Linked DNA regions of Homo sapiens: region 1 is linked to region 2. Evidence: fine-mapped expression QTL. Tissue or cell type: whole blood. Region 2 holds a variant in brackets; the other region holds the start of a gene. All regions are shown on one strand. Distances are between the middles of the regions.

The links. PIP is the estimated chance that this variant, and not a neighbour inherited with it, causes the effect.
Region 1: it holds the start of GUCY1A1, and the variant in region 2 is fine-mapped to the expression of GUCY1A1 in whole blood (INTERVAL, PIP above 0.99).

What each region holds. Positions count from the first base shown.
Region 1 is chr4:155,663,482-155,669,024 of GRCh38, forward strand. It overlaps GUCY1A1 (guanylate cyclase 1 soluble subunit alpha 1), which reads left to right and starts at 3,367. Exons shown (of 10, transcript NM_001130682.3): 1 at 3,367-3,484; 2 at 3,865-3,938.
Region 2 is chr4:155,583,818-155,590,100 of GRCh38, forward strand. No RefSeq gene overlaps it. Among named protein-coding and RNA genes, the nearest start is that of GUCY1A1, 80 kb to the right of the region's middle. The variant T/C (reference allele first, on the strand shown) is at 3,228.

The DNA of each region.
Region 1 (5,543 bases), 79 kb after region 2:
ACCATATTGGTCAGGCTGGTCTCGAACTCCTGACCTCAAGTGATCCACCCGCATCCGCCTCCCAAAGTGCTGGGATTACAGGTGTCAGCCACTGCACCCAGCCCCCTTTCTATTTTCAAAGCCAGCAATTGCTTATCAATTCTTTCTAACATAGCATCACTCCGACTCTGACTGACTCTATTGCTTTAATCTTTCTTTTACAAGGACCCTTTTGATTGCATTTGGTTCACCCACCTAATCTGGAATAATATTCCCATCTCAAGACTAGCTGATTAGTAACCCTAATTCTATCTGCATCCTTACTTCTCTCTTGCCATGTAAAATTGCATATTCACAGGTTCTAAGGATTAGCAGGTAGACATCTTTGGAGTGCCATTATTCTACCTACCACTGTATTTACTGCTCACAAACACCAACTCCTTGGCAAAAATATAGTGGACAGCATTTCTGTTACCATCAGAATCTCTTCCAGTCCAGGCTGCTTTGTGAATGTCTATACCAGGACTAGAAATGCGTGGACGCCAACCTAATAAGATCTAGTTTTTCTAACTAAAGCTTTACATTCATACAAAAGAGACATTTTGGAGTCTTTGCATCATCTTACTGCAAGTTACCAGTGTAAACTTTAACCAGGTACATTAAAACAAATTGAAAATGAATAATACTAAGAAAAGGAGGAAATAAGGAGCCAGAAGTTTATCTTATTTTTCTTATATTTGAGAGGTTATCCTAATTTGGTAAACCATACAATCCATAGTTTGTTCGTTTGCTAAAAATAAAACAAAGCTCTGACCCTGACATATATGTAACACTTCTCTCATTTCTACCCTTTTACTGTTCTCTATCTCGTTCTTAATTCCCCTTGGTTTATGGATTTTTTATGGTCCACAAAGTCAGTAGAGATGAAACCATTAGTCCCATTACTTTATTTGAACTGACATGGCAATAGTAACCCAGAAAAATAAAGATGCAGGTTCTAAAAATCCCTGAATTTAGAAAGATTCATACGATGTGTTTTGAGGCTTATCATACTTAATGCCTTGATAGTAGACCAGTGCTTTTCAAACTTTAATGTGCATAGGAATCACTTGAGGATTCTGTTTAATGGATAGTCTGATTCAGTTGGTTTAGAGAGGGGCCTGAACTTCTGTATTTCCAACAAGATTGTAGGTTATGGGATACTGCTAATATAGAAACCATACTCTGAGTAGCAAGGATTTAGATACTATCTCTAGTTGCCATTGTCCTTTCATTTGCAAGTGTGAAAGTAATGTACATTTAAATGCTTTCATGCTGTTGTCAATTGTGGGTTGTAGGTACAAGAAAAACAAAGCATCTTGAGAGGAAATAAAAATTTCTTGAGCTTTTCTGCCAGCATCAACATGGCTAAGGAGATTGCTTTACACTGAGTAATTTTCCTTGTTAACATTTTTATTAAGTTGTCATGACAACTTTCTTATTCTCCATAAAGTGGAGGAAAGTAGGTTTTAACCCATAAGTCAACTATAAGAAAGAAGATTGGACCTGGAAGATGATGAAATATTCAGGTATTCATTTATCCACTCAGCAGGCATTTTAGTGAATCCCGTTATGAACCATTTTCATTACTAGGAAATTAGGCTGTGAAGATTAGTATTTCCCTAACAACAAGGAACTCTTGTTACTTTTTTAGAGCATATCAAACATCCAGATTACAGAATGTCTTTTGCAGTCACCTTTTGGTGGTTCTAGCCACCCTTATGTTTAGATTGGTTGCTTCCTCTTCTTACCCATTGTCTGACAGTCAGAAAGGATAGAGGAGGAAGAAGACAAGACACTATCCAGTTGAGAGTCTACTCTTAGTAAAACTCGGTAGCTCCTGGCAGAATGTACTGGGGTCAAATGCAATACTAATCAAGGAGTTTGGTGTGCCATAAAACTTGAGAATGGTAAAAGTAGAAATTAATGGGTTAAACAAGTCATTTTCCAGAATGAAAGGAATATTGGTAATGGTATCAACAGACGAGGACAACAGCAACAACAAAGTCTTTATACAAGCCTGCAACACGTGACAACTGCGGATCAGGCATCTGAACCCGGCCTATCTTTCCACCGTATCTTCCTACACTTTTCTTTATGTACTTTTTATTTCTACCAGATGGTATTACTCCTTGTTTCTTGAATAACAGTGTCATGCCTTTCCAACCTCTGTATGTTTGCTCACAAGTTTCCCTCTGTCAGAGAAAAGCAAAAACAACAAAAAAGTCCTCTATTTTATCTTTTTCCAAACATAACCAATCCTTCAAGTCCTATCTCTAGTACTGTTCCTTTATGAACCCTGTCAGACAATATCTCATTTTCTTCTGAATGTTCATAGCATTTACTTAAAAATAGTATGACTTCCCTCTTCTTTTTACTAATGAATTACTGTGTATTTTTTAAGTTTCCTTCTACATCTGAAGTTCTAAATATTCTTAGTACAAATGTCCTACTGATCTAAGAGAGTATCATGGGTTAAATGTAGAGGAAGAGAAGTTTCTGAGATGGCAGGAAGGCAAAAGTTTCTGTGACTACCTGTGCTTATATTGCTGACTTTCTTAACTGTTCCTGACTTATTTAAATGTATTTTTTTCCTGATTCTGATTAATGTTCACTATGAGGCAAGCACAGTAGGCAAGACTGGGAGAAAGTTTGCAAATGTGATGAGCTTACAAATGGGACCAGATTAGATGGTGTACTTGGGGGAGATATAAAAGAGGAAGATAACCATGAATTGAACTGAATTGAAAATGGATCACATAAAGATCATGATTAATTGTTAATTCACAATGGAACAGCATGATGGGATTTTTTTAAGTCAGAAAGGTGACTAAAAGCATAATATCACAACACACACAACGGTAACAAATATAACTAAATGCACTGAACCAGGCAGAAGCCAGACCTTACTGAAAAGATGTAAAATCTCTGTAACCATAAAACTGCATCTGCAAATGAGTAGATTGGCTTCAAATCTGAAAACCAGGACAAGAGAGTCATCAGCGCAGATGTCAACTTCCCCAGCAGAAATGTTGGAGTTTTTAACTGTGGAAAACTACAGTTTTTCCACACCAGTGCATAGTGGAGAAGACATGTTTTTGTTTTTCTTTTTAAGTGTGCCAAATTTTCCTGGAGTCCCCTCCAATTTTTTTCTTTCTCTCTCTCTCTCTCTTTTTTTTTTTTTGTCCCCTGCCCCTAGGTCTCTGTCTCCACACAGTGATTTCTGTTATGGCGATTGGGCGGCTGCAGAGACCAGGACTCAGTTCCCCTGCCCTAGTCTGAGCCTAGTGGGTGGGACTCAGCTCAGAGTCAGTTTTCCAGAAGCAGGTTTCAGTGCAGAGTTTTCCTACACTTTTCCTGCGCTAGAGCAGCGAGCAGCCTGGAACAGACCCAGGCGGAGGACACCTGTGGGGGAGGGAGCGCCTGGAGGAGCTTAGAGACCCCAGCCGGGCGTGATCTCACCATGGTGCGTTTTGGCTGCTACTTTCTTTTTCAGTCTTTCGGTGCGGAGAAGGGGAGGAGGCGGGCAGAGGTCTGAAAAAATCGAATGCCTTATGGAAAGGAACTGCAAGGGTTCCTTTGGGGTGATCAAAGAGGGAGACACAGACACAGAGAGACAAAGGCAAGGAGGACTGTCTGGGAGCCACGCGGGCGATACAGTTTCCGAGGCACGCCGCGTCCCGCCTAGCCTGTTGAACAGGTAGACATGAGCGACCCAAGCGTAAGTGCCGCTGCCGCGAGTGCCCAGGGTGCACTCGCGCGGGGACCGACAGGTGCCACTGCAGGGTCCCCTCTCCCGCTCACTGCCTGCCACCCCTGACGCCTGCTCTCTTTCTCCATTCGCAGTGCGGATTTGCGAGGCGCGCCCTGGAGCTGCTAGAGATCCGGAAGCACAGCCCCGAGGTGTGCGAAGCCACCAAGTAAGTGGTCGCTGCATCCCCACGCGGGTCGGGGTTCTTCAGACAGGCGGTCCCTCTTCCGGGACCCCCGCTTGGGCTGGGTCTCCTTCCTCTCCTGAGAAACCTTCGGTACGCTCCCAGTTGCCCAGCCCTGGGAAGCCAGCATCGGGTTCCCACGCTGGGGAGGAGCGAGAGGAAAGGAGAGGACGCCCGAGGGGCCGGCCCAGGGCCCGGGGGACCCGCGGCGCCCGAGGGAGGAGCACAGACGGGGGTGGGCGCCGAGCAGCGCCGCGCCGGCTGCTGAGCTCGCGGGGCCGGGCCGTGAGAACGCGCGGGGCGCGCCGGGGCCGCTGGTCTCCCACGGCCAGGGCGCCTGGGCCCCAGAGCCCATCAGCCGCGTGCAGCGCTGCGGCCTCCGGCGCGCCGGCAGGCAAGCGAGCGGGCGCAGCTGGGGGATGCCTGGACCCCGGAGGCAGCAGGGCTGGAGGCGGTGGCGGGCTTCAGGGCAACTTCACCCGGCCGGCTGCGGCGTGGGTAAGAGGCGCGTCCTCCTCCACAGCAAAAGCTGCGATCGCTGGGCTGCCCAGAGAAGGCAGCCGGCTAACTGCCCAGCGGCTCCACGAGGTGTGCGCGTGTGTGCGAGAGAGACAAATGATTTACTGCTTAGCAGTCCCATTTCTGTTTTCGTTAGGACTGCGGCTCTTGGAGAAAGCGTGAGCAGGGGGCCACCGCGGTCTCCGCGCCTGTCTGCACCCTGTCGCCTGAGCTGCCTGACAGTGACAATGGTGTGAGGGGCTGCGTTGCAATGTGGTCATGTGATTTCAGGCTATGGATTTCGTGCGTCTTTCTCTGCTCACTGATTTTCACATGGTTATTCTTTCATTTTGCACTCGATAAACAGTTTACATCTTCTGAAGTAAGCCAGAAGATTGTATGGCTCACTTAACGATGACTGGTTGAAGGCATCTTGATTTGGAACCTATGGAAACAGTGCTGAGTTTTAAATAGGACAGATTTTTTTTTCTTTCATTTGAACTTCATTTATAACATATCAATAGTGATGTTTTAGGATCAGTTCTCCTATGGTAATTTCACTAAATGCCTATTTAATGAATTGATTTGATTTCATACATCTCTACCACTTACTAGAACTGTCTTTGTACAAACGTCAAACTTTCCTGTTACATATGGGTAAGCATAGAAGCACTTGATATAATTTTTTTTTATCTTGGTTCAGAGTGTAGAAGTGGTCTGTTGCTTTTCCTAAAATTGCTATACATATTTTTTCTTTAAGAGTGATCATTTCAGGTACCCTATTATGTACAGTGGTAAAAAGTAAACTCGTTATGATAGCAACGACGATGTAACCAAAATAAGCAACACTTAATTGGTCTGAAAGTTATACATATAAGCTTTATTATTGCTTCAGTGGAAGTTGTCTATGCATTCTGTGCTTTGTTCAGCCATTAAACAACTGGGTCCGTGATCTTCTTCAAGGGGCCGTGAAGTCCCTAAAATTGTATTTAAACATTAGAGTGGCTGCATTTTAAGGGAGATAGTACATAGTCAAATATCCAAAATGGACCTGTGTCCTAATAGAAAATTAAGAACCACGGGGTAAAAACA
Region 2 (6,283 bases):
TTTTCTTAGGACAAGATAAAAACGTGCTGGATTCTAGGATAAGAAATAACTTATAAATTCAATTAAGTCAACTGAAAGTTTCTGTTTAGGGAAATAAAATGAAAAAGTCATGATTCATTTGTTCATGCAGGCATGCATAACTAATATATATTGAAAACTTGGCTGGGCTGAGGGCTCACGCTTGTAATCCCAGCACTTTGGGAGGCCAAGGCGGGGTGGATCACATGAGGTCAGAAGTTCGAGACCAGCCTGGCCAACATGGCAAAACATCGTCTCTACCAAAAATACAAAAATTAGCCGGGCGTGGTGGCATGGGTCTGTAGTCCCAGCTACCTCGGAGGCTGAGGCAGGAGAATCGCTTGAATCCGGGAGGCAGAGGTTGCAGTGAGCCGAGATCGCACCACTGCACTCCAGCTTAGGTAACAGAGGGAGACTCTGTCTCAAATAATGATAATGATAATGATAATGATAATGATAATGATAATGATAATGAAAATAAAAACCTACTATGAACTAACTAAACATTAGGACAAGAGAGTTATCTTCTTTTTTAAAGGTTTGTACTCAGAAAGCCCATGGTTTAGGCAAAATTATGCACTGAAATATTAACTTGTTGGTTTTTTGTGTATTTGTTTTTGCTGCTGAAAAATTAGAGATGAAAGCTCCTATGGGAAAGCTCCTTTTGCCTTGAAGCTCATTCTCTTAGTTCATTTGTGCTGCTAAACCAAAATACTTTGGATAATTTATAACAAAACAGAAATGAATCTTCTCACAGTTACAGAGACTGAGAAGTCCAAGAGGGAATTAGCAGATTCAGTGTCTGGCAAGGGCTCCTCTCCCTTACTGTATCCTCTCATGGTGGAAGGGGCTAAAAAGGGACAAGCACACTCCCTTTGACTACTTTTAGAAAGTACTCATCAATTCATGAGGGCAAAGCCCTCATTGTTAAATCACTTCCCCAAAAGCCCCACCTCTTCATACCATCACTTCAGGGTCTAAATTCCAACATATGAATTTTGGAGGAGCACATACATTGAGACCACAGCACTCACAATAGAAGAAAAAGTAATTTCTCCGTGGGGTAGGATTGGAGCCCCTTCTAGACTCTGTCTTTTGAAACCAGCCTGTCACATCCTCTACCCATTCATGTTCTGACCTTCTCTCAGGGGGCTCTGTCCCTTCTGAGGAGACCTGAAGTTGTCCAGTATGCTGGTTACTAAGTGGATGAATAGGTCTAATTGTCAAGATGTAAAGTATTTACTAGTGCATTTGGCCACACATCTAAAACCACCTCTCCAATCAGCTTTATCAGTAATACAGCTGGCCTAATGATCTCTCTCTTGGTAATCTCTGTCTACCTCTCAAATAATTCTGAAATAATGAGGAGAAGAAAGGAATTATTTGCCACTCTCACAAAAGAGCTAAATTTTATTGTGTAGATAACAGTTAAATGTACCTAAAAAACATTTTCTGTTTCTACCTACCTTTTATATTCTTAAAGCCTGAACTCTTGAGGATATTTTACAAGTAAGGACAAGAGAATCCACATGTACTTTGAATATGGGAAGGCTCAAACTTGGAGAGTAATGATGAGGTTCCTTATGTCTGGATGGAGACTAGGTCCATGGGACTTTTGGTATTGTAGATCTATGTCCAGCTCCCTTGCAGCACCCTGGTGGATTAGCAAAACCTGGAGGAATGACTGAGCGGTGCATCTCACAAGCCTCAACACTCAGCTCAGTGTTTCCAGCTTCACCAGCATCCAGTAGCCAGCGCTGGCTACAAAGATGCTGAGTTCCTAGATTTAAGTGGAATGACCACACATGTGAGTTTCCCTGCAACGGTCCAGATTTTTGTGTTATTCTGTCATAATTTTACTTGCACCCTATTATACTCTTCTAGTTTGGTTGATAAGTTATGCAATTGCCCTTAAAACTTTCAAGAGACAAGGTGGAGCTTTGCAATGAGGATTCAAATAGTGAACAGCGTAGGCAGCACCAAATGAATTAGAAGATATCCCTCAGTCACACCTCAAGTAAATGGAAGCACCTCAAATGAGACCTAAGAATGGCTTTTTTTCAGGCGATACAGTCAGATCTTGTTTTCCTTCACTGGTTTCTAAATCTTTGCCTTCCTAGTTTGCCATGCAGGTCATGCTTCAAATTCTTCCAAAATATCATGGACAGATTTCTCACCCTGACCTACAAGTTCAATAAAACCAGGGAATACCTAGGGATGTTTTATTCAATAAATCACATGCATCTCTTTTATCACACAATGTCTTCTACCACTATTCCCCTTGTTCACTTCCCTTTGGCCACATTGGCCTTCTCAATGTTCCTTGACTTCTCAGTCAAGCCCCTACCTGAGGGCTTTTGCCTTTGATGTTTCCTCTTCCTGTAATGCTTTTCTCTCAGATATATGTGTATCTTACTCCCTCATTTCATGAAGTTATCTGCTGAAATGTCACCTTATCACTGAGCCCTTCCATGACAATTCTTTAGGAAAGAGGAAGCAGTATCCATGCTGCCCCTCTCCCTCTTCCCCACTACCTGGTCCCTTACTGTGCTTTATTTTTTCCCACAGCTCTTAATAATTATTGGCATATGATATATTTACTTATATGTTTGATTAACCCTTTTCTCTAGCTATAAAATAAGTTTCAAGAAGGCAGGGACTTATTTTCCTGGCTATATCTCTAGCTCCTTCAATAGTGCTTAGCACATAGTTGGCTTGCAATAAATATGTGCTTAGTTTAAAAAGATGGGTAACAGTCATGGAAATCCAGTCACTGACTAGGAAGGCAAATATTTAGGCCACCAGAGAGCTATTGGTCTCACTCATAAAGATATCATACCTTGTGTCTTTCTTGTTTAAACCTCAGTTTTTAAACTTTGTAATAACTTGAAAATATTCTTTCATGGTGTTAGGAATTATGCTTTTATTTACCTTATCTTTGGTAATCCTATCTATTCATATACCCTTTTTATAAATGTTATCTTTCTAAAGGAAGAAAAAAATCAAATATTCAAAGTCAGTGCTTTTGCAAGATTTTATAGGCACCAGCCATTGTAGGCATAATTTTTTCATATCTTGAATAAATACTAGGATGCCTTAGAAGCTTCTGGAGGAAGCTGACTACTTAAATGTCAGTTATCCAAGTACAACAACAAAAACGAAGTCCATGGTAATTTCAAGCCACATAACAGTGAGTCGGGATATCTTCA[T/C]TGAACCCAGGCTTTGAGTTTATCCCAGGCTACAGAGGCCCACATAATTTGATCCTAATTAACACAGGCCGGACATGATAGAGAATTTCCTAAATCCCACTCCTAACTTCCAAGGTTTAAGACTTTTTTTGTGGAGAAAACCAATGATCTTGACATAAAGCATTGTCAGCCTATAGCCCACAGGTCTTTGCAATATCTTAACAACAGTGTATTCATGTTTTTGCTTTCTGTCCCTGGAGAAGGTTGCATCAGTCAAATCATCTTCCACTTGCTTGCTAAATAAATCTGGTAACACAGGCAATATATCCTCCTGATTCAAATGGCCTTGCTTGTTGAAATGCAACAGCAATAGGCCTTGAGAATGAAGGATATTCTGGATTTCAGAGGCATACTGCCTGGTTATGAACATTAAAGACATTGTGCAGGTGTTTACACCCTAACTAGTCTTTTATGGTAAGCTATCAACTGTGCATCACAGATTACTAATGAGAGAAGAAATGCCTGTTCCACTGATGTAGCTTAAGTAAGTAGTGTGCAGTTCAGTTCTGGAAAAGATGCCATCACTGCCATTTATAAGCAGTATGTTACCCTTCGTTTTCACATTTTCTAGCAAAAGTTTAATAATTTATTTTGATTTTAGAAAAACAAACACAGGAAGCAAAACTTTATCACCACTAGATCAGCGATACCTATGCCAAATAAGACATAACAATCAATGTGTTAACTTAGAAAACAATTTTTAAACTAACATGACTATAATCACATGTATTTTTAGAAATTTTGTGTAAACAAGCCTTCCAAAAGACAGTTTGGTAGGAAATCTCCCTCAGTGTTTCCATGCATGGCAGCCATCAAAATGTGCTGCTCTCATCTCTTGCAGGAAGCATGCTTGATTGATGGCCACTGCTGCTGTCTCTCTACATTGGCCATTGTGGTTGCTCCTAACCAATGACTAAGTATAGCAGGATTTCTCAGGCAGACCCATTCTGGTAAGACATGACACTCTTCCAATGGGCATCTTTACTTCGAAGGCTTCCCATTGGCCTGGTTAAACATCCTTTGTGCCTGCGCTACAGTCGCCATTCTTTCTACCCAATACTCCTTCCTTCCCTCTCTCCTTCCACAGAGGTCAGACTCATGTCACAATTTGAAGGTTCTCTGTGCCTTCTCTTGCTCCCTTCACCAATAAATCTCTTATACACCTAATTCCATTTTGGTGTCTGCTTCTCAGTCAACCTAAGTGAACGCATCATCCAAACTTTCACAGCCCTCTCATTAGAAGTTTTTTTATTCATTAAGTATTTACTAAGCAGCTATCTGTTCCAGGCAGTGTCCTATTCACTGGAGATATAGATGTTGCACTAACAGAGAACATATACATTAGATATAGATTTTATGCTACCAAGGAAAATATACATTAAATTAATAATTATGAATGTAATGAAAAAGGAGTCCTATGGAAGCACAATTTGGGAGATCAAATAAATTCTAAAATTTGAAGATGGTCACCCACACTGAGAGAGTTTTAAGCATAGACTTGAAAGAGGTGTGGACATTAGCTATGTAAGCTGAAAAAAAGGAAAGAGCTTACTAAGCAAATTCTGAGGAAAGAAAGCTAATGGCTTATTCTTCCAGCTTATGGGAATCCAGTGTGAACTGAAAGAACCCCCAGTAAATTCAACATTATAAATAATTTCTGAAGAACGTATATATGAAGTTCTCCCTGGATTCACTTTTTTTCCCCGGTAAAGTATTTGGGATAAGTATCTTACTTTAACATCCTCCAACCCCATTTCAGTTCTAACTGCACATCCCATAAATGTACTATATCAGATCCCTGTAACTTACAACATAGCAGAATCATTCTAATTGTACAGAATATTGTAAAGAATATTGACTAATTATACAGACTATTGGCTAATGGTGCTATATCAAATAAGCCAGCGGCTCTCATGTTTTCCAGCAACTATTTTCCTTAAGAATAAGCTTTGCACTTTATTTCTAGAATCTTCTTCATCCTTGTTATGTGATTGTCTACAAAGATGTCTCTGACTTAAATCGAGCACTAATCTGAAACATTCTTAAGTACATTCCCCTTTTTTAAGCTGTTAAATCCTCTCTTATTGTCACTCACCTGGCTACTACTATTTTTGTAACAAACATTTGAAAGAGGGAATATTTTTGTTTAGAATGATATTTGCAGTATGCTTTCCTTTATCCTGTGCAAGAAAGCTTTCCTTTACCCTAGGAAAAAAAAATGCTGGTCTTGAAGTCAGAAATTGTCTTTCACATCTAGGGTTCTACCTCTTACTGACTATATGGATTCAGGCTACACCCATTTATGCATTACATATTTATTATTTGTTACATATCATCCATTGTGATAATTATTGGCAATACAAGTTGTTACAAGCAATATTCCTTTTTATCAAGAAACCCAGCCGTTAAACAATTTTCGCCTCATTTCCTCATTCAAAGAGGGTTATAATGGCATATTCAATCCAAGTTATTGACATATTTAACAATTATTTAATAAACATCTGTACATGTTTAACTTTAATAACTCATTTATGAAAGCATCTGACATTGGTAGGGGCTGAAAAAATATTTGTTTGCGAATCTGATGTGCTACCCTTTAGTAGGCTAATGACACAAAAATGGCATTTAAATTGGCAATAAATTAATCTTCTCAGGCTTAGTTTCCCCCAAAATAAGTTTTCTTTTGAAACCTAAGTTCCAAATGAAGCAGTCAATTGTCTGGTTGGATGGCCCATATAAGAGGACTAGCTGTAAAATTCAGGTCTAACATGAAGACTTTAAGTCATGTTTACCTAATTTCTCTATTTCCATTTCTTCTATTAGCAAGAATTTTCTAAAGGTCTTTTCAACTTCTGATACCTATTGGTGAAAGGGAAAGACTATACAGAAAAAGAACAATAATATTTATTAAAAACTTCCTATATGCCAGCCTCCAGGCAGAACCCTCTATATTATCTATCTATCTATCTGTCTATCTATCTATCTATCTATCTATCTATCTATCTATCTATCTGCAT